Linked DNA regions of Homo sapiens. The protein of the gene in region 4 purifies or fractionates together with the protein of the main gene of each other region. This does not show direct contact. Each region holds a gene or a part of one and is shown on either strand. Other genes may lie near its edges.

Region 1 (3,380 bases), on a different chromosome or scaffold from region 4:
TGAAATAGTTCCATGATGTAGATTAGTAAATATCGATAGTTCTTAAGTTTTATTATAACCTAGTAAGTTTACAAAGTCTCCTGGCTTAAGGTCGGGAGTAGATATCAGATCTGGCAAAAGCAGCTTAGATGTGATAGGCTGATTGCACTAGATTGAACTTGGTGCTGTTTCTCTTAGGTTTTAACAGGACACATCAGGACTGAGCAACCAAGTAAGTCCAAGTTATTACAATTCATGTTGTTTTTTTCTCCTAAAACAGTAAATATTTCGGCCTTTGTGGACCATAGGTCTGTCTCAACTACTGAATTCTGCCATTGTAGTGAGAAAGCACCCACAGACGATTTGTAAACAAATGGGCATAGTATTTTTTTTAAAAAAAAAAAAACCTAAAACATTAAAAAAATTTTAAACTTGTTGGCCGTACAAACAGGCAGTGGGGTGGGGTTTGGCCTGTAGGTTGTAGTTCTCTGCCCTGCTCATGTCTATTTCCCAAAACATTTTTTAAACCATACAGGCGTTTAAAAACAAAATCTACAATCTGTACAACCTCATTTTAAGTGACTAAGCTTTTTCAGTGTATGCCAATACATGCATAAAACAGGTAGTTCTGTCTAGTAGTGTTCTGCCTTTTTCAATCACTATTGAAAGGACTCCCTGTGGCAGCACATAGCTCTTTGGTAACCACAAAGTATCCAGTAAATAGATTGCCATGACTTAATCACATTTGAATATTAAATTGGTACCAGTTTCATAAATCCTACAACACACATATTTGACCATAGCTTGGTTGTGCAACTTGTCCATTTGTTGACTAGACTCCCAGGAGTGGAACTGTTGGGTGAAAGGGTATGTATGCAGCTGTGATAAAATACTACTCAGTAGCTCTCCGACAGGCTGTATCAGTTTCCACTCAGATCCTTACGCAAATGTCATTTCTAATGACTGTAATATTACACCATATGGATATATTGCAAGTTAACCATTACAAATCCTTTGCTGCTGAGCATTTTATTTTAATGGCTTTTCACTCTAGTGCCTTGTCTTGGTATATGTCTTTGTCCACATTCCCGTAGATACGTTGAATTCCTAGTATATTTACTTCGTCAATAGGCATGTTTCTTAAGGTTGATAAATAATGATGGCCAAATGAAAGTACTTCACTAACATGAATTTGAGGAAAAGTTGAGAAAAGCAGGAAAATTTACTTCCATTGTCTGATACTGATTAGCATCAGGAGAGTGGGAGTCTACATATTGGGAGATGTTTGTCAAATGTTACAAAAATGCATTAAGAGTAATACCGGGTTATCAGAATTTGCTGAAATCATATCAAGGTGGAAGAATTAGAGAATAGTTCCCTGGCTAGAAGACGTTGAACCTTTGAGTGTTTAGGTCTTTGCTATAATGTCTTGCTTGCTAAGATAGGCCTTAATGGCCCTCTCATCGTACTGCTAGAATTTAGCCAGTGGCACCAGTCAGGAAGGTATTAAAGTAGCACCAGCGATAGATTACTTTTCATCCTGACTTTTGTCCTAGAGCTCCATAAAATGTGCATTTGGTGGGGGAAATCACGTCTACAAATAAAATTGTATTGCTTTTGAAGATGGTATAAGTCTATAGATAAAAAAGCTGTAAAACCTTGAAAAATACTGAAGGATGTAAAAACACCAAGATAGGCCAGGTGCGGTGGTTCACGCCCATAATCCCAGCACTTAGGGAGGCCGAGGCAGGCGGATCACGAGGTCAGGAGTTTGAGACCAGCCTGGCCAATATGGTGAAACCCCGTCTCTACTAAAAATACAAAAAAATTAGCCGGGCGTGGTGGCAGGCGCCTGTGATCCCAGCTCCTCGGGAGGATGAGGCAGGAGAATCGCTTGAACCTGGCAGGCGGAGGTTACAGTAAGCTGAGATTGCACCACTGCACTCCAGCCTGGGCGACAGTGTGAGATGCTGTCTCAAAAAAACAAACAAAAAAGCCAAAACTACACCAAGATAAATCACTTATCTCTACCCCACTAGAATATAAGCTCTTTGAGATTAGAAAATTGTTTTGTGCTCTTATCACAAATACTAGGCATAAAGAAGATGCTTATTATTGAACAGCAAATGCTTAAAAAGACCTGCAGGCCAGACGAGGTGGCTCATGCCAATCATCCTAGCACTTTGAGAAGGCTGAGGCTGGAGGACTGCTTAAGCCTAGGAGTTTGAGACCAGCCTGGGCAACACAGCAAGACCCCATCTCTACCAAAAAAAAAAAAAAATTAAAGAGTCCTATAGAGAATTCTTATACTCCAATGTGAAGACAACATTGGAAAGGGCCAAGTTTCTCATGCCCTCCAACTAAGAAACCCCTAATAAAAAATGAAGTGACACTTGAACAGGACTTAAGGATTCTACAGTTGGTCTTTGGCAGCAGTATGTTTTAGGAAATGTAATGCGGCGGGTGGGGCGGTGACTTAGCCAGTTATGCTTTTAAATGGAACTGCAATAATAAAAGTGATACTAGTGCAGAAAGTATCTGTATTAGAATTCTAGAGTAAGTCAAGAGCTCACATTCATTAAAATAATGACACAACTCCACGGGGGTGGGGAGAACAGCAGTAAAGCAACCACATACTATACTATTAGACTGGCAACATTGAGACTGAAAATATCCATGAGGAGAATACTGACATCTTAGTGGTAAGCATTTCCTTTTAACCCGGTAATTCCAGTAGTAAGGATCATACAAATGTACCGCTAGGAAGAGGTAACGTATATGATCATCAATGGGAGAACAGTAAAGGTGTTACTGTGGAATTCCCGACAGGCTTTCACTTGGAGGGGGAATATTTGAACACAAGTTTAAACAACCCAGGGTAAGCACACAATGCACTATGCACTGAAAGGTATACGTTTCCGCTGGGTGTTTATACATTTCAAAGTTAAAAGCATACACCTTACCCAAAGTTTCAGAAACCTGGTTTGCAAATCTGAGTTCATGTGTGTGTGTTTTTGTTTTTTTTTTAAAGCCATGATCATTTTTTCCATTTTTATTTGATGTTTCCAAATATAAAAAAGTCAGGATTCTTACATCAATTATCTCAAATGAGACCATGCAAAGCAATTCAGTGTATACAACAATCATTTTTCCCCTTCAGTTCTGCTGCTTTATACAACAGTGTGATTGACAGAAAATTGGATGGCATGTGCCTGGTCAGAAAATGTCATCTGTTTACAAAATAACATCATGCAGCACAGTTTCTACTTTGTCTGCAAGTCAATTCACAAAAACTACTTATTTTCTGTTTTTTATTTGGGAGGCACATGGAACTGAAAAATTTAGCTGCCCAATTTTATTCAACTACCCCACCAAAAAAAAAAAAAAAAAATCACAAATGA
Region 2 (4,170 bases), on a different chromosome or scaffold from region 4:
GAAAAAGGAGAATTATACAGAATTTAATGTATTGAAACATATTAAATCCTCAATGTATTTATTCTGCATCCCTAAACAGTCACATATGGACATTAAACAGTTCTCTTCCTAGATAGAACTGTGTTTCAAACAGAAAGGAATAGTTCCACAGAGTACAATTAAGTTTCTAAAGCATTTCGGGAAATCAATGTCAAATAATAATTATAAGCTTGCACCGGTATGTTAAAGTACTTAGCTCATCTATGTTCCACACTGAATAAAAGAATTTACCAACCAAATTCTCCATTATATTTCAAATACAGTAATTCAAGAGCTTTGGCATAAAGTCTTATTTCCAAAGCATAATTTTAAAAATACACTTCTCAGTCATTGTCCAGCTGCCAGTTCTATCCTTCTTCATTCATTTTCATTTCTCTTTTGACTCTATTCTCTGTAACTTCATATAAACCACCTCACACACATAGACCTCAATGATCTCATCAGCAAAACAAAGCAAACACCCACCTTTTGTGCCAAGAGTTGGGAGACCACCCAACGTATTACTAGGGGTCCCTACCACTGCTAAAATCTATGTCTTAGTTCTGTCAGTTTAGTAATATGTCTTTCAAGGCTTCCTTTATTCTATTTAGCACATCTAAAGTGCTAAAGTTTATTCTAATAGTTTCGTGTTTTTACTTCTGAATTTAGATTCCTTTACTTCGCCCACTATACACAGGCTTTCCTGGCTTATGTTGAACCCTCGACTTTTAAGGTAATCAAGAATACTATTACATGAACTACTAGAAATGACCACAAAATAAATGAAAAATATAGGAGAAATGCAGAAGAAAAATAAGAAAAACAGCTACCATGTTACAATAATAATTGCGGAAAGGAAGGGTGGTGACAAGACCTCACTTTGAAAGAGATCATTACAGATATACAGAAAAGGGATAAACAAACAAGAAGGACAAACACAGGGAAACAGGAACAATGTTCATGGACAGGGAAGTCAAGGAAATAAGTAAACATAAATGTAAAAGGCACACTGGAAAAGATCAGGCAGTAAAAGATGACTTTAGAATCAGATTTACTTACTCATTAAGGAAGAAATCCCCACAGAGAACCTGAAAAAAACAATTAAGTCTGCCTGCTTGCCCTGGGGCCAGAAGTGTGAGCCAGCCAACTTGAGAGTTGGGACTACCTAACCGGTGCCCTCAGGGGCTGTAGGCCCTGGTTTTCAACACACTGCACCTAATGACAAACTCAGGCCACTGCTCTTCCATTTCTCAGGTAAAAATGCCTTGTTTTCAAGATTTCTGTAGGAAAGTGTTGCCAATTCTTGCATGTCCATTCTAAATGGCTCCTCAATCATCAACAGATGATTAATTCACAATATTCACAGTAAGTAGGGTGATCAGATTGTCCCAGTTTGCCCAGGTTTAGCACTGAAAGTTCTACATCCTTGGAAACCCCAGTCCAGGGCAACGCAGGATGGTTGGTCAGGATATATGGGAGCATCTTCCCGATCTTTTCACTGGCCCAAGGAGTCAACTATCACCGCAAAGTCTTCTCTCTAAATTGCCTCTCTAGAGCCTAAATGCTCCTTCCTGCCATCGCTCTCCTTCAAATGTGTTCCTCTTATCATCAGTCAATAAACTCAGTCTACAGGGGCAAAAACTGCCTCTCATTCATATGTACCCCACCACCTCTTGGCACACTACTGATGAACAAATATTTCCAGTATTTCTATCAAATATAAGTCAATCAGTCCCACAACTTCAAGCTTGGTCTATGGGGCCTCTTGATTCTCCCTGAAACTTAAAAGTTATGAAATTCAGGACACAGAATTGAAAAGTGAATTTTAAGTATCTTATATTGAAATCTATGCTTACGAATCATGATTCAGTTTTTAGCTAACAAAACACAGCATTCTTATATTCTGAAAGATGGGAGAGGAGGCAAAGGGCAAAACCTGATATTTCTTAGGTGTCAACAACTACAGTTTCCTATGTTTCTCCATCCCTATCAGGAAAAACTGCCAGGCTGAATTCTCACAAAAATTGCCTACAATGTCACTACTGTTCTCCACTCTTTCCAAGAACCGCGGTGAGGACTGGTCACGCAGCGTGAGGGGGGCAGGTGCAGAAGAGCAAGTGTAGAAGCCATCTCTTCGCCGGATAACGAGGCAGGACCCCAGCATCTCGTGGGACCTCCTCCCTTCGGGAAATTGCGAGCGGGGAACCAGGAACACGCAGGGCCCCGGCCAAGTAGCTGTGCTCAGGGGGATCATTTAAGCCAAAGGAAGGACAGCGCGAGGGGAGCGAGGGAAAGGCGAGGAAGCAACCGCTATGCAGGGTGGGGCAGGAGTGAGGGAGGGAAGGCAAAGGAGCGGCGCGAGGCGGTCTCGGGTCCGGAGAGCCGAGGACAACGCGGCGACTGGGCGCAGGGTGCACCCGAACCTGAAAGACCTGGCAGGTACATCCGCCTTGTCGGAGCCTGCTTCCTCGGAAAAATGAGTTTTTCTTGGGGATGAAACGAGAGGACTCTGACAACGCGCTCGGCACCGCATCCCCAGGTTACTGTTACTGCCGTCGCCGCTGTCCAAGAGGGTCGCCCTCCACTCCTAGCGGCCCGGCTCCAGCGCCCAGTCTGGGAGTCCGCCCTACCTGCCGTCCTTAGCCTCCGGGGCCTGGCCATCATCGTCTGTGACGACCTGCGGCCGCAGGGGCCGGCGCTGTCGCAGCCCGTCCGCCTCGCTCATGGTACGGGCGCCAGCCTCACCCGCAGAAACCACCTCACACTGAGCGGCGCCGGCTCAGACTCCAGGCCCGCCCTCCCCCGTACGCGGAAATGACGTTGCGCCCAGGGACCATTCCGCAGCGTTCTCCCCGCCCCTTCCGGCCTCATGGGCGGGAGGTCCCCGGCGCGTCGTTGCTCGGCGCTCTGAGGCTAATTCTGACCGCCCGGAAGTGGGGCTCGGAACCCGCTCAGAGATAGCACCGGGAGCTGCCGGGGTCCCCGCCTGTCTCGGACTCCGGGGCCCAGAACGCGAGTGGTTCAACCTCGGGCTCGTCTAGCCCAGTGCCTGCGCATGCCGCCTTCGTCTCACGTTTCTGAGGACGGGGATGCTCATGACGCACTTGGGAATTGCTAGCACGAGATGTTGGCCACTTTTATCGTTGGAGAGGATAGCGCTGTTTATTCAGTGTCAGCGACCCTGCTCTTACAGGCAGCGTCAAAAATAATGCATTCACACCCTTGGAACGAAGTCACCTCTGCCTGAAAATTACATCCTTCCCCGACTCAGCCGGTTAAGGGGAAAACTTGGGCTAGAAAATGTTTCCCTCTGGTTAAGGCCAGATGTTGAGTATTAAATCTTTTTGTGACGATTACAACAGACATTTGATAAAGTTTATTAAGTTTTGATAAAGTTTATTAAGTTTTGATAAAGTTTATTAAGGATTACCCTTAAGTAAAGTCCAGGTAGAAGTAGAAATTATCACTAACAAAGTTTAAGAAAGCATAGAGAGGCATTGTTCTTTCAACAGTATTGCAGGAAACCAGAAATGTTCCCAGGTGCTGGGAGACGATGGTGGGCAAATCACAGACAAGGCCCCTCCTTATAGAAATTAAACTAGTGGGAAAGATGACTTTAATCAGATCATCATCATAAAATAGACGTAAAATTATCAAACGTAATAATTGCTTCAAAAGGGAAGAGCTGAATCTTGTGAGAGCATTTGAGATTCAAAGAGGAATCGAATCTGGAGGAAGTGACAGGCAGAAGAAATCAAAGCCCGTTACCAGTGGCACGAGGAATTATCTCTGGAAAAGCCATGTTCAAAATGCAGTGTTAAGAAATAATTTCCTCTTGGAGGCTTTTACCTTTTTAAATGCTAGATGGCACTAGAATTCCATGTGAATGCTTTTTATTTATTCATTCAAAGAGCGGAAGAACCAGCTTGAGGGAAGTGGAGAGCTGTGCAAATCCAGTTCTCCAGAGATCCCAGGTAATAATTCAGGCCTCGACAACATTTTACTTCATTCTGTGTCATTGAGAATAGCCAATACAGCTATTAAATCAGGGATAGTGTTAACAAAGTACTGTATGATCTCACGCCTTCCTGCCTGTCTGGACTATCCCTCTTGCTCCCCACCCCCCATTTCAGACATTCAGGATGGCTTAAC
Region 3 (3,519 bases), on a different chromosome or scaffold from region 4:
GAGAACTCCTGCAGACACATTATCTATGCCACTTACTTAACAATTATGTACTCTGTATTATTAATCATGTCTTTGATGTTTACAGTCTTTTATCAGCAACTACATTGCAAGCCTTGAAGACCTGGGTTCTGTCTTATCCTTGTAGTATATGTCTCTCTCACGCACACACACACATTCAGCACTTAACACAATGAGTTGTACAGAAGTAGCACTCAGTATTTGTTGATTTTAGAAAGCAAACTCAACTTCATCCTACCATCTGCATTTTTCATATATCTGCATTTTTTTTTTTACCTGCTAGTTTATCATTGCTTTAGTTCTGTGGGTCCTACTATGAATAGCTTTATTCATAAAGTCCAAAGCCGAGGGGAACTCTGTAGGATGACAAATTTGGTACAAGGGAAGGAATCCTTCTTAACTCCACAGTGCACCTGGCATTCCTGTAACATCTGTGGCTTTTCCTTTGACAAGGACATAGTTTTACGTTGTAAGACTAATGCCTAAAACTCCCCCAGCGCCACTGTAACTCTTACCTTCCTTTGGCACTAATGTAATGGGAAGAAAGCCTCAACAGGGAGCTAGGACCTGAGTTCTAGTCCTGGGCCTATAACTCAGTGACCCTGGGCAAGTCATCTAACCTTTCTGGGTCACACTTTCAATATTTCAGAAAGGGGGAGGGTTATACAAGATCATTAGAGCTGTTTTATCATCTTCACAAAGGCAGCTGTTTAAAGCGAGAAAGTTATTGAGGTGAAATCTTTATGGCTTGTAATGTCACCCTTTGTCCTTAGTTCTGCCTTCTTAGTCACTTGGTAGACAAAGCAGAGACACAATACTGTCTGGTCAGGGATTCTTGCATTAGGGAGAAGGGAGAGGTCCTCTCGTCTCATCAAGTTTTGTGATTGTCACTCATATGTGTGTGTGTGCGTATGTGTGTATACATATATACGTATATATACGTATATATGTATATATATACGTATATATATGTGTGTATATATGTATATATATATTTTTTTTTTTTTGAGAGAGAGGGTCTTGTTCTCTCGCTCAGGCTGGAGTATGGTGGTGCAGTTATAGCTCCCTGCAGCCTTTAACTCCTGAGCTCAAGTGATCCTCTCCCCTCAGTCTTCCCAGTAGCTAGGGCTAGAGGTGTGCACCACCACGCCCAGCTAACTTTTTATTTTTTGTAGAGATGGGGTCTTGCTATGTTGCCCAGGCTGGTCTGAAACTCCTGGCCTCAAGTAATCTTCTTATCTTGGCTTCCGAAAGTGCTGGGATTACTGGCGTGAGCCGCCACACCCAGCCTTAAAAATTTTTTTTGGATTGTTACTCTTAATGCATCCCCAGTAGGTCTGTGTTCTTCTCCTTCAGATGCTGGGTGGTTCTTGTATGCTTCGGAGAATACTTGGGGATTTACTCCTTTGGTGGGGGCTCTTGCCACCCCATACATGTACACTAGGTAGATAAATATCTCTGCCCATGAACTGGGTGAAGCAGCCTCTCCCCCAGCCACTCCAGGGAGAGGTAGAGGTGGTAGAACAGGCAAGTCTCTTGCCCAGCTCCACCCTTTGAGAATGTGGCAGGGCTGAAACCCAAATATCTGACTCTGTGATGTGCCAGGCATATCCACTTACGTTCTGGAATCTCAAGCTCGGGGTGGACAGACCCAGGGCCCTGTTTGGGGCTGGTTGGGCTTGGCACTGTGGTTGCAAGAGAGTCTGCTTCTTGTGTGGGCTGTGTGGCTATTCTTGAGGGAGTAATTGGGCAACTTCTCCATTTGCTCAGTAAGTATGTACTGAGTGCCAAGCACCCTGCTGGCTGTGAACAGACGTGGTCCTTGGCCACATGGAGCTTACAGTCTTGTAGGGGGCAGACAGTAAACACATAGTCATGCAAATTACACATGATCATACATAGAATTATGTAGTATTATATATGCTGGTGACTCCTCCCACATTTATAATTTCAGCCCATTCTCTGCAACTTCAGCCTTGGATATTCTGCTGCCTGCTCACCACACCTGCTGTCTAAAAGGCTTCCTAGTTTAACGTGTCCAAAACAGAATGAACCCCCATCCCATCCCTGTACCTCCCAAAGTCTTTCCCATCCCAGTTCATGATGATTTCATCCTTCCGCTTGCCAAGGCCCCTAAAATTCTCGTCGTCCCTGACTTCTCCCTTTCTCTCACACTTCACATCCATTTAATCAATAAATCCTGTTGGTTTTGCCTTAAATATGTCCCGAACCTGACTCTGACCATCTCCACCACTTTCACCCTGGTCTGAGCTACCACTGGCCTGTGAACTCACCTTCCTGCTTCCTCCCTTGTCTCCCGACAGACTATTTCCATCCCACTAGCCAGCGTGATACTCTAAACTGTAAGTCAGATTTCATTACTCCTTTGCTCAAGCCTCCTGTGACACTGCATCTCATTCAAGACTTCTTGTGTTGGTCTACAAGATATGATATGATTTTCACCTGCTCACCTTTCTTAAGCCATCTCATGCTCTCCATCACCTTGTTCAACCCCCCGATATCTGAATGGGTCCCTCTCTCTCCTTGTCCCAGTCTCCTATTTAAGGAATCAAACCCTCCCAGGCCATTTCATTTAAAATTATCCCCTTCCCTCTATCACCTGCTCTCGGCATTATGTACCTCCCTTTCCTGTTTTATTTTGTTCCATTGCTTATGTCATCCTCTGATATTGGTTGTCTCCCCTTGCTCCATGTTGTCAGAGATTTTTATTTGTTCACTCTGTGATACCAAGAGCAGTGCCTGGTAAATAGTTGTTGGATAAAACTAGAGTTGGTGAAGTCTATAGAAAAGCATAAGTGAACACGTCTGATTGATCTCCTACCTTAGATGGGTGTTAAGGCAGGTATCTTAATGAAGGGACTTAAACTGCAACCTCAGAGTGGTGTTCTATCTCTGGGACTGGCTTCTCTCTTGCCCCAGGCTTGCGTAAGTTCTTAGATACCTGGGATATATATGACTCCTGTGGTTTGGGTGCCTCTTGCTGGGAGATACCAGGGCTGAAGCAGGAGGGCAAAGTGAAGCTCACTATTGGGGTCCTAACCAGGCAGTAGCACCTTCTTGCCATTTTATGTGTGCACCTATGTCAGAGTGGACCCCCCTCTTCCAGGCACACGTGATGTTTGTAGTCCTTAACTCGCAGGGCAGGGATAGGGTGGCCTAATAGACTACAAGGGAGGAAGTTAGGTGATGTGGATTCCAGGCATCTCTTACCCATCAACTTGCTGGAGAATTTTTAGAATCATAGAATTTTAGAGCTGAAAAGGAACCTAAAGATTTCTATAACCTCTTTTTTCTTACCCAGCCATTAGAAAGAGAACAAAGGTATGTCTGTCCCCTGCCTAGTTCACAGAAACATGGTGCAACCTACATAAAAACTGCATGTGCTCCTTTAAGTTGTGAGTGTGTGGAGGTCAAGATATTATAGGGAAGTGGTTGAGGTCAAGTGTATTCAAAGGAGAGGAGGTCTAGTCTCTGCCACTT
Region 4 (4,094 bases):
ACAACTCAGGCAGAGAAAACAGCAAGTGTAAAGGTCTTGGGGTGGGTTTGAGCTTAGGATGTTTACAGAATGGAAAGGTCAGTGTGGCTGGGCTGATCCAAGCCCCACCCAACCCACTTAGCACGGCCACCTCTCTGAAGCCTCCTTGGATCAACAGGATGCTTCCCTTGCTGATTCAGCTCCACCCTACTTCCACACATCTGTGGTCACAACACATCCTGACCACACTGGGTTGTGATAGACTCTATACACTGGTCTGGGAGCTCCTTGAAGGCAGGGGCTATCTCCTCTCTAGCCAGCACTGTTCACGCACACAGCAGATGATCAGCATCTGCTAAAGGGATTAATACATTAATCAATAGATGAGTGAATGAATGAGAAAACGACTCTCAGGTCCAAATGGCTCACTCCTTTACTTGTCTAATTGTTACCTTCTCAAATTCCCTGACCCCGTATGCAAACTGCAGCCCCACTGTCCCCCCATTCCCTCACCCATCATATAACGTGTGTATTTATTATGTTTCCCGTTTCCTCTGTCTCCGCCAGCAGAATGTAAACTCCATGAGGTCAGGAATCTCCGAGTTATGTTGCGCCAGTGTAATCCAAGAGCCCGGAACAGTGCCTGGCACACAGCGGGCATATGGAAGAACAAATGTGTGAAGGTGTGAATGAATGAATAATTGAAAGAATAAATAGTAGTTCTCAGCCTCACAGAACACGGGTCACAACCTCAAATGACCTGCTACCCTGCCCATAAATAACAGAGATGCAGGAGTAAGTGCTGGGCTGTGACCTGTCAACATGCTAAGCCGCTCAAACAAAACTGCCCAACAGCCCGCTGGCCGCCTATTTGCAGCACTGGGCCCTGAGCCGCACATTCCCATTTCGTTGATAAAGAAACTGACCAGATAGTTTAAGTGGCCTGCTGCGGAAGACAGAGCTGGTGCTGCACCGGTCGCTGCTTCCCCAGTCCTTTTTTGGCCTCCTTTCTGACGCGACGCAGACCCCAGTTCTGGAGAGTCTGTCACTCGCTCCCCGTGGTGGGAGATCAGAGGCCTGGTGTCCTTGGGAGCGGCGAGCGGTGCTCGGCGCAGGATAGAAAGGGAGTGCGCGCCCGAGTCCCCCAGATCCCTGGGAACCCGCGCCACCCTCCCGCCCCTGCCCATCCCCGGCCGCGCTGTCAGTCTCCATTAGCGCTAACAGGCTCCAGACGGAGCGGGCCGGGCGCTGGGTTAATGCAATCGGCGCGTTACCTGGGGCGCAGGCTACATTACCAGCCCGGCCCCCGCCAGGCACGGCCAGAACCAGTCAGCCCGCGCCCTGCCGGCCGCCCCGCGCCTCCAGCTCTTCCCCGGCCCCGCCCGAACGCCACACGGCGGAGCCCAGCCCCAGCCCGCGCCCTAGAGCCTGCCAAGGCGCCGCCGGTCGGGGGCCGGCAGGGCGCAAGGCACCAGGGATCCCCTCGCCGCCGGACACGTGAGTGCGCCCTGAGCGCGGGACAGGGCTAGGTCTGCCTGGGAGGCCCGGGCCGAGACGCGCCAGCAGAGGGCTAGCGAGTTTGTAGTGCAGTGACGTTAAGTGTCCGAGAAGGCTCCTGTGGCTGTTGAAGTGTCGCGGACCTGAGCTGGGGAGGGGGTCGGCACGCTGCCCTCAGCCTCGGTGAGTTCAATCCCAGCCATTTGGGGCAGGCGAGAGTGGGTGAACGAGGAAAAGTGCTGCAGGGTCTTCAGCCGCCCCCAGAGGGCTGTCAGAAGTCTCCAACTCTTGAGTTCCGGCGTGCCCCAACCTCTGTTTCCAAATTTTTCCAGCGGACGCGCGCCCTTTTCTGGGAACCCTGCGTCCGCTCAGCGCGCGCTCATCCCAGTGTCTAAGGCGCTCCCGGGTGGTCTTGGGAGTTGCAAGTAGGGAGGAACGGCCGGGTAACCACCTCTTTTCCCTTTATCCAAGCAGAGCCTCGGCGTGCCCCCAGGACCGGTAAAGTTCCTCTCGCCAGCCGCATCCATGCTTCTGGCGCGGATGAACCCGCAGGTGCAGCCCGAGAACAACGGGGCGGACACGGGTCCAGAGCAGCCCCTTCGGGCGCGCAAAACTGCGGAGCTGCTGGTGGTGAAGGAGCGCAACGGCGTCCAGTGCCTGCTGGCGCCCCGCGACGGCGACGCGCAGCCCCGGGAGACCTGGGGCAAGAAGATCGACTTCCTGCTGTCCGTAGTCGGCTTCGCAGTGGACCTGGCCAACGTGTGGCGCTTCCCCTACCTCTGCTACAAGAACGGCGGCGGTGAGCGTGGGGTCGGGCTGGGAATTTGAATCTGGGAGGTCCACTGTCTGCAGCGGTGGCTGGGACAGGAGCTGGAATACACACGGAAGGGAGGCGAGGAGACAGGGGCAAATCTGGGGCGCAGAAAGAACTGGACAGGGCTAACGGGAAAAAAAAAGATTGGAGTCCTCTGGAAGGTCATTTTCCCAGGCTCTTTGCAGAGTACCTCGAGCTCATTCCAGCGGAAGTGTCAGGATTGGGCACCCTGGAAGCAAAACAGCAGAAGAGTGAAATCGAGTCATGACCCTAAAGTCATGGTAGGGGTATGGATGGAAAGGACAGAATCTGGGGTGCCAGGTTGGGTGGGGGAGCCTGACCTTTTGATGGTCTGCTGGAAGGGAGGTGGAGATTCCAAGAGCTCTTGAAGGGGCACCAGAAGTGGGTGGGATTTGACAACCAGGCCCACAGTGACCCTAAATCTAGCACTCTGAGCCTGGGGGCAGGAACCTTTGGGCCAGAAGCAGTGGGAATACTTCGGTTTTCTGAAGGCACCTGGGGAGGCCCTGTGGTCTTGGGGATAGAAACACACAAGAAGAAGCCAGTATCAGAAATAATGCCATTCTCAGGGAGCACAGCCCAGGTGGAATCAGGCCAGTAGGTGCCAAGAACTGGCCTGGTCCTCAAGGCAGGAGGCCCAGATGATTGGGGTGAAACCTCTACCTCCTCAAGTTCTAGCCGCATTGCAGGGAGGAGTGGGAGAGGGGCCTGAAGAAGACTCCAGTGGAACAGCCACACTCTCTCCCCCTTCTGCTGGATGGTCCAACTGGCCACCTGCCTGAAAATGAGAGCCTAGAGATCACCTACAGCCAATCCAGGAAGAATAACATAGAACCCCGGGCCAGGGAAGCGGTCTGGAAGTCAGGGTGCTGGCCCCCACCCCCTAGCTCCTTCCTGAGGGGCTTTGCTCCTGCCACTTTTGCTGGGATGAGCTCAGAGGTACCCTGCAAAGAGTGTGGGAAAATAGACCTTTTGAGGAAGAAATTGGAGAAGGGGGACCCAGCTCTGAAAGCCTCTCTCTCTCCACTGGGCTGCATTGCTTGGCGGTAGCTGTGACTCTGGACTTAAGGGAGGTCAGAGGGAGGAAGGGCAAGAATTTGGAGCTGGGTAGAGGGAAAGCTCATGACCTGTTCACAGGCTCTAGGACTTACAACTCTGCTTCTATGTGTACTCTGGACACTTGCTTTGGGACGGGCAATACTTGGTGTTTGCAAAAAAGGAGTGGGGCCGGGCATGGTGGCTCATGCCTATAATCCTAGCACTTTGGAAGGACAAAGTGGGCAGATTGCCTGAGCTCAGGAGTTCGAGACCAGCCTGGGCAACATGGTGAGACCTCGTCTCTACTAAAAATACAAAAACTTAGCTGGGCGTAGTGGTGCACGCCTGTAATCCCAGCTACGCAGGAGGCTGAGGCAGGAGAATCACTTGAACCCGGGATGTGGAGGTTGCAGTGAGCCAAGATCACGCCACTGCACTCCAGCCTGGACCATGGGTGACAGAGCAAGACTCTGTCTCAAAAAAAAAAGGAGTGGGATCACCATAGAGCACAGGTGGCTCTGAGCAGAGGATCTTGAGTAAGAAAGCAGTTAGCTCTTCCAACGAGAAAGTTAACCCAAGGTTGGAGCTGACAGATGGAGGTTTGCGTCCATGGTCTCCCTGACACCTCCTGAGATGGGTCTGTCATTGTCAGATACTCTGAGACCAGATAGCTGGAACAGCAGTCCTGAGCTTCAGGGGCATCTGAGGTCTGGGGCCTGATCCGTGGGGAAACAACTTGTGACTC
Region 5 (3,519 bases), on a different chromosome or scaffold from region 4:
GCTGGCTCCATCTGCCATCAATGGGAAGATGAGTTACCAAAACCACCAGGCCCACTGTGGCATCCCATCACGTTCCTGCCCTACTGTACGTCTACAGGGCAGTCCACAGGTCCCTCTTAGATGTAAGGATGGTGGTCTCAGAGGGCCAGGCCACCTGCTGGAGGCCCGGGCCCACAGCTGTTCTTGGTACCCTGGCACTTCTTCTCCTGGCGCAGGCTGCTGAGCAGAGGGGCACAGCCCCTGTGGCTGCCATGTTGAGAACAGATGGGAAAGCTGGGCAACTAAAGCCTGCATCATGGCCCCAATGAGCAGCGATCACTTTGAGGGACATTCTGCATTTCTGACTCCTCCATTTCTTACACCTCAGGTTTCTACTGATAGCCAGGACCACTCCTGCCTGTCCCTCCCCATCCTGGTCTGTCCCAGATGATGTCGTTCCGTGACTCACAAGGACCGGGCCCACGGCGATCCACCACAAAAGCCACTGTCACTGGGATGGCAATGGCTTGGTTGGTCACGGGGCTGGAGAAGGTCAGGGTAGTGGACAGAGGCCCTTGGCTGCCAGCCGCGGGGTCCAAGACGCCGACCGTGTATGTGATGAAGCTGGGCCACCCAAAAGACTTCTCCTTTGCGAATGCCAGCACGGCCGGGGACCCGGATTTCACCTGGAAGAGACATCAGAGCTGGGGGTGCACATTCTGCAGAGTGGGGGGACCACTGAGCGGGGCCTCAGGACCCCGAGGCGGGAGGGCTGCTCTGCATGGCCATCTCTGGAAGCACCCCCGCTTCAGCCTGACATGCTGGGCTTCCCTCCTGGGGCCCAAGGGTACAGGTGGGGACCCCTGCCCAGGTCACATCTCATGGGCAGGTAATGACACCTGGGCACTGCTCATGGACGGCGTGTACTCTGCAGAGTCGGGAAGCCCTGTCCATACTCAGGGTGTTTTTTGAGGGAAGGACAAATCAATATGAATGTCAGAATCAAATTCAAGCTCATTTAATTCTAATCAACTGCTGCTTACAAAAAGGCTAAACCAGGCTGGGCGCGGTTGCTCACGCCTGTAATCTCAACACTTTGGGAGGCTGAGGCGGGCAGATCATGAGGTCAGGAGATCGAGACCAGCCTGGCTAACACGGTGAGACCCTGTCTCTATTAAAAAAACAAAAAATTAGCCGGATGTGGTGGCAGGCGCCTGTAGTCCCAGCTACTCAGGAGGCAAGGGTGGGAGAATGGCATGAACCCGGGAGGTGGAGATTGCAGTGAGCCAAGATAGTGCCACTGCACTCCAACCTGGGCGACAGAGCGAGACTCCGTCTCAAAAAAAAAAAAAAAAAAACTTTGGGAGGCCAAAGTGGGCAGATCACAAGGTCAGGAGATCGAGACCATCCTGGCTAACATGGTGAAACCCCGTCTCTACTAAAAAAAAATTAGCCAGGTGTGGTGGCAGGCACCTATAGTCCCAGCTACTTGGGAGGCTGAGGTAGGAGAATGGCATGAACCTGGGAGGTAGAACTTGCAGTGAGCCCAGATTGCGCCACTGCACTCCAGCCTGGGCGACAGAGCAAGACTCCATCTCAAAAAAAAAAAAAAAGGCTAAACCAACATGAAGTATCACCAAGCACCAGCTCTCCAAGGTAGCAGCCCGAGCTCTGCTCACGCCGCCAGCGGGCTGGCCCTCCTCCCTCATCAGCGATGCTGAGCATTCCCTGCCTCTGCAGAACATGCGATCACGCTGGCTGCAGCAAGGCAGGAGGAGCAGGCGGAAATGCCGAGGAACTCCTTGGTTCTCTCACCCCCGAACTCTTCCCAGCCTGCCAGGCTCTGGGCCTGAGGGATCATTCACCCACCAATCCCACCCCGTGACTTAGTCATGGGGGAAGTGAGGCCTGGAGAGAGGGGACTTGTCCCAGCAGGGATTAGGGCTTTCCTCCCTGCTCTGTGGCAGATGCTCCTGCACTGAATTCTGCGATGCCACGCACCACACGCTCACTGGCACCTTTTCTGGGGTTCTCACTGCTGCCCCCACAAGCTTAACTTGTAGCTGGGGAAGACCAGCAGCGGTCAGAACAATTAATACAATCACGCAGCCTGAGAGACAGCAACAGTGCTATGGAAAAAGAAAAGAGTACTTCAATTTAAAAATTCTAATTGTAAAAATAAATTTTAAAGAGAGCTGGCCCAGGACATCCACACCACATTCCCTCTTCCTCCAGGGCCTTCCTGATGCCCCTGACTCCGGCCTGGCCTGAGGCATGCAGATGCCACTCACCTCCAAGTTCTCCAGAACCTCCGGGGCACCAAAGACCCTGATCTCGGAACTGGTGTAGTGGTTGCTCAAAAGGATTTCAGCCTGGTCGGCGAAGAGACCTGGGCTGAAGGGCACCTCGGCCCCCACCTGCTCTGTGGAGAAGTGGCTGCTGGAGAGGGAGGCACTGACCACCAGAGCTGTCTTCTTCATGCTCAGGTGCTTCCGCTGCTTGTCCGTCAGCCTGTGCATTGTGATTGAGCAGAAGTACTGGCCTGCGAAGACAAGGGTGTATTGTCTTGTCCCCTCTCCTGCCCGTGCACTGATGTCATTTCTTCTCCCTGCTTCTCTAACCAGGGGATTCCTATGCATCCTCCAAAGCCCAGGTGAGAAGTCACCTCCTCCAGGAGTCCTCCTGGGAATCCCCTATAAAGGCCTTGGCCAAGCTAGGATACCCTCTGTGACCAGCAGTCCTCCCAAGTCCCCCTGGCGTCAATCCCCAGGCTGGGCTCCTGACAATCTCTGCCCTCTGGACAGACGGCCATGGTGAGCTGGGCACGTGGAAGCCGCAAGATGCCCAGAAGACAGAGACTGTCTCCAAGTCCCTTTCACTTTCAAATCCTCGCAATTACCGAGAGCAGTGTCAAACTGTGGCTCCACGGTGAACACATCTTGAGATGGGAAATCAAAGACGGCCGGCTTGAACTGGGACTGGCAGCTGATGAGGGTCTCTGGGTGCAAGGCCTGGATGACTTCCCTCTGGGTGGGGGTGCACTCGCCTAGAGAGGGGAGAGACGAGAGGGTGTGGGCCAGGCCCGATGGCCACCACACCAAATTCCACCAGGCCTGCACAGGCTGGCTGGGCTGCAAATGCCACCTGCCCCTGCATGTCTTCCAGCAGGGCCCCAGGGCGGCTCAAAGCTTTGAGATGCAGCCAGGATTGGTAAAGCCAAGGACATATCATATGGAAGAGGATGCCATCGGCATCACAGGGAGCTTCAAGTCAGAATTTCAGCATTTGTTCCAGACCTTGCATCCAGGGGCACGGCAGACGGGCTAGGCCCACTAATGCCTGTCTTCTGTCCCTGTCAGCAGGGGAAACGGCAATTTACTTCTGCACATTCAGAGGGCACTAGTTCTCCACTAACATCTGAGCAGCATTTAGGCAACGGCACAGTGCTGTCCACTTGCGCTGAGGAAGGAGCAGAGGCTGCCATGATGGAACAGAGCTGCCTCGTTAATCAGGACGAGAAGGGCGGTGCTTCACTCTGCC

Evidence for each region.
Region 1: the proteins of SLC6A2 (region 4) and NUDT4 purify together in Homo sapiens (affinity purification with mass spectrometry, with the first as the bait; one large-scale study listed by BioGRID). This does not show direct contact.
Region 2: the proteins of SLC6A2 (region 4) and APMAP purify together in Homo sapiens (affinity purification with mass spectrometry; one large-scale study listed by BioGRID and IntAct). This does not show direct contact.
Region 3: the proteins of SLC6A2 (region 4) and UBTD1 purify together in Homo sapiens (affinity purification with mass spectrometry; one large-scale study listed by BioGRID and IntAct). This does not show direct contact.
Region 5: the proteins of SLC6A2 (region 4) and NUP210 purify together in Homo sapiens (affinity purification with mass spectrometry; one large-scale study listed by BioGRID and IntAct). This does not show direct contact.

The regions. Positions count from the first base shown.
Region 1 is NC_000012.12:93,401,913-93,405,292, reverse strand, and holds part of NUDT4 (diphosphoinositol polyphosphate phosphohydrolase 2), read right to left. Parts: 3' UTR 1-3,380. UniProt on the Homo sapiens protein: Cleaves a beta-phosphate from the diphosphate groups in PP-InsP5 (diphosphoinositol pentakisphosphate), PP-InsP4 and [PP]2-InsP4 (bisdiphosphoinositol tetrakisphosphate), suggesting that it may play a role in signal transduction.
Region 2 is NC_000020.11:24,989,946-24,994,115, forward strand, and holds the start of APMAP (adipocyte plasma membrane-associated protein), read right to left. Parts: upstream 2,807-4,170; 5' UTR 2,744-2,806; coding exon 2,649-2,743; intron 1-2,648. UniProt on the Homo sapiens protein: Exhibits strong arylesterase activity with beta-naphthyl acetate and phenyl acetate. May play a role in adipocyte differentiation.
Region 3 is NC_000010.11:97,501,908-97,505,426, forward strand, and holds part of UBTD1 (ubiquitin domain-containing protein 1), read left to right. Parts: intron 1-3,519. UniProt on the Homo sapiens protein: May be involved in the regulation of cellular senescence through a positive feedback loop with TP53. Is a TP53 downstream target gene that increases the stability of TP53 protein by promoting the ubiquitination and degradation of MDM2.
Region 4 is NC_000016.10:55,654,694-55,658,787, forward strand, and holds the start of SLC6A2 (sodium-dependent noradrenaline transporter), read left to right. Parts: upstream 1-1,294; 5' UTR 1,295-1,476; intron 1,477-1,560; exon of another isoform or gene 1,561-1,659; intron 1,660-1,746; exon of another isoform or gene 1,747-1,950; 5' UTR 1,951-2,001; coding exon 2,002-2,275; intron 2,276-4,094. UniProt on the Homo sapiens protein: Mediates sodium- and chloride-dependent transport of norepinephrine (also known as noradrenaline), the primary signaling neurotransmitter in the autonomic sympathetic nervous system.
Region 5 is NC_000003.12:13,319,315-13,322,833, forward strand, and holds part of NUP210 (nuclear pore membrane glycoprotein 210 precursor), read right to left. Parts: intron 3,026-3,519; coding exon 2,879-3,025; intron 2,522-2,878; coding exon 2,271-2,521; intron 666-2,270; coding exon 449-665; intron 12-448; coding exon 1-11. UniProt on the Homo sapiens protein: Nucleoporin essential for nuclear pore assembly and fusion, nuclear pore spacing, as well as structural integrity.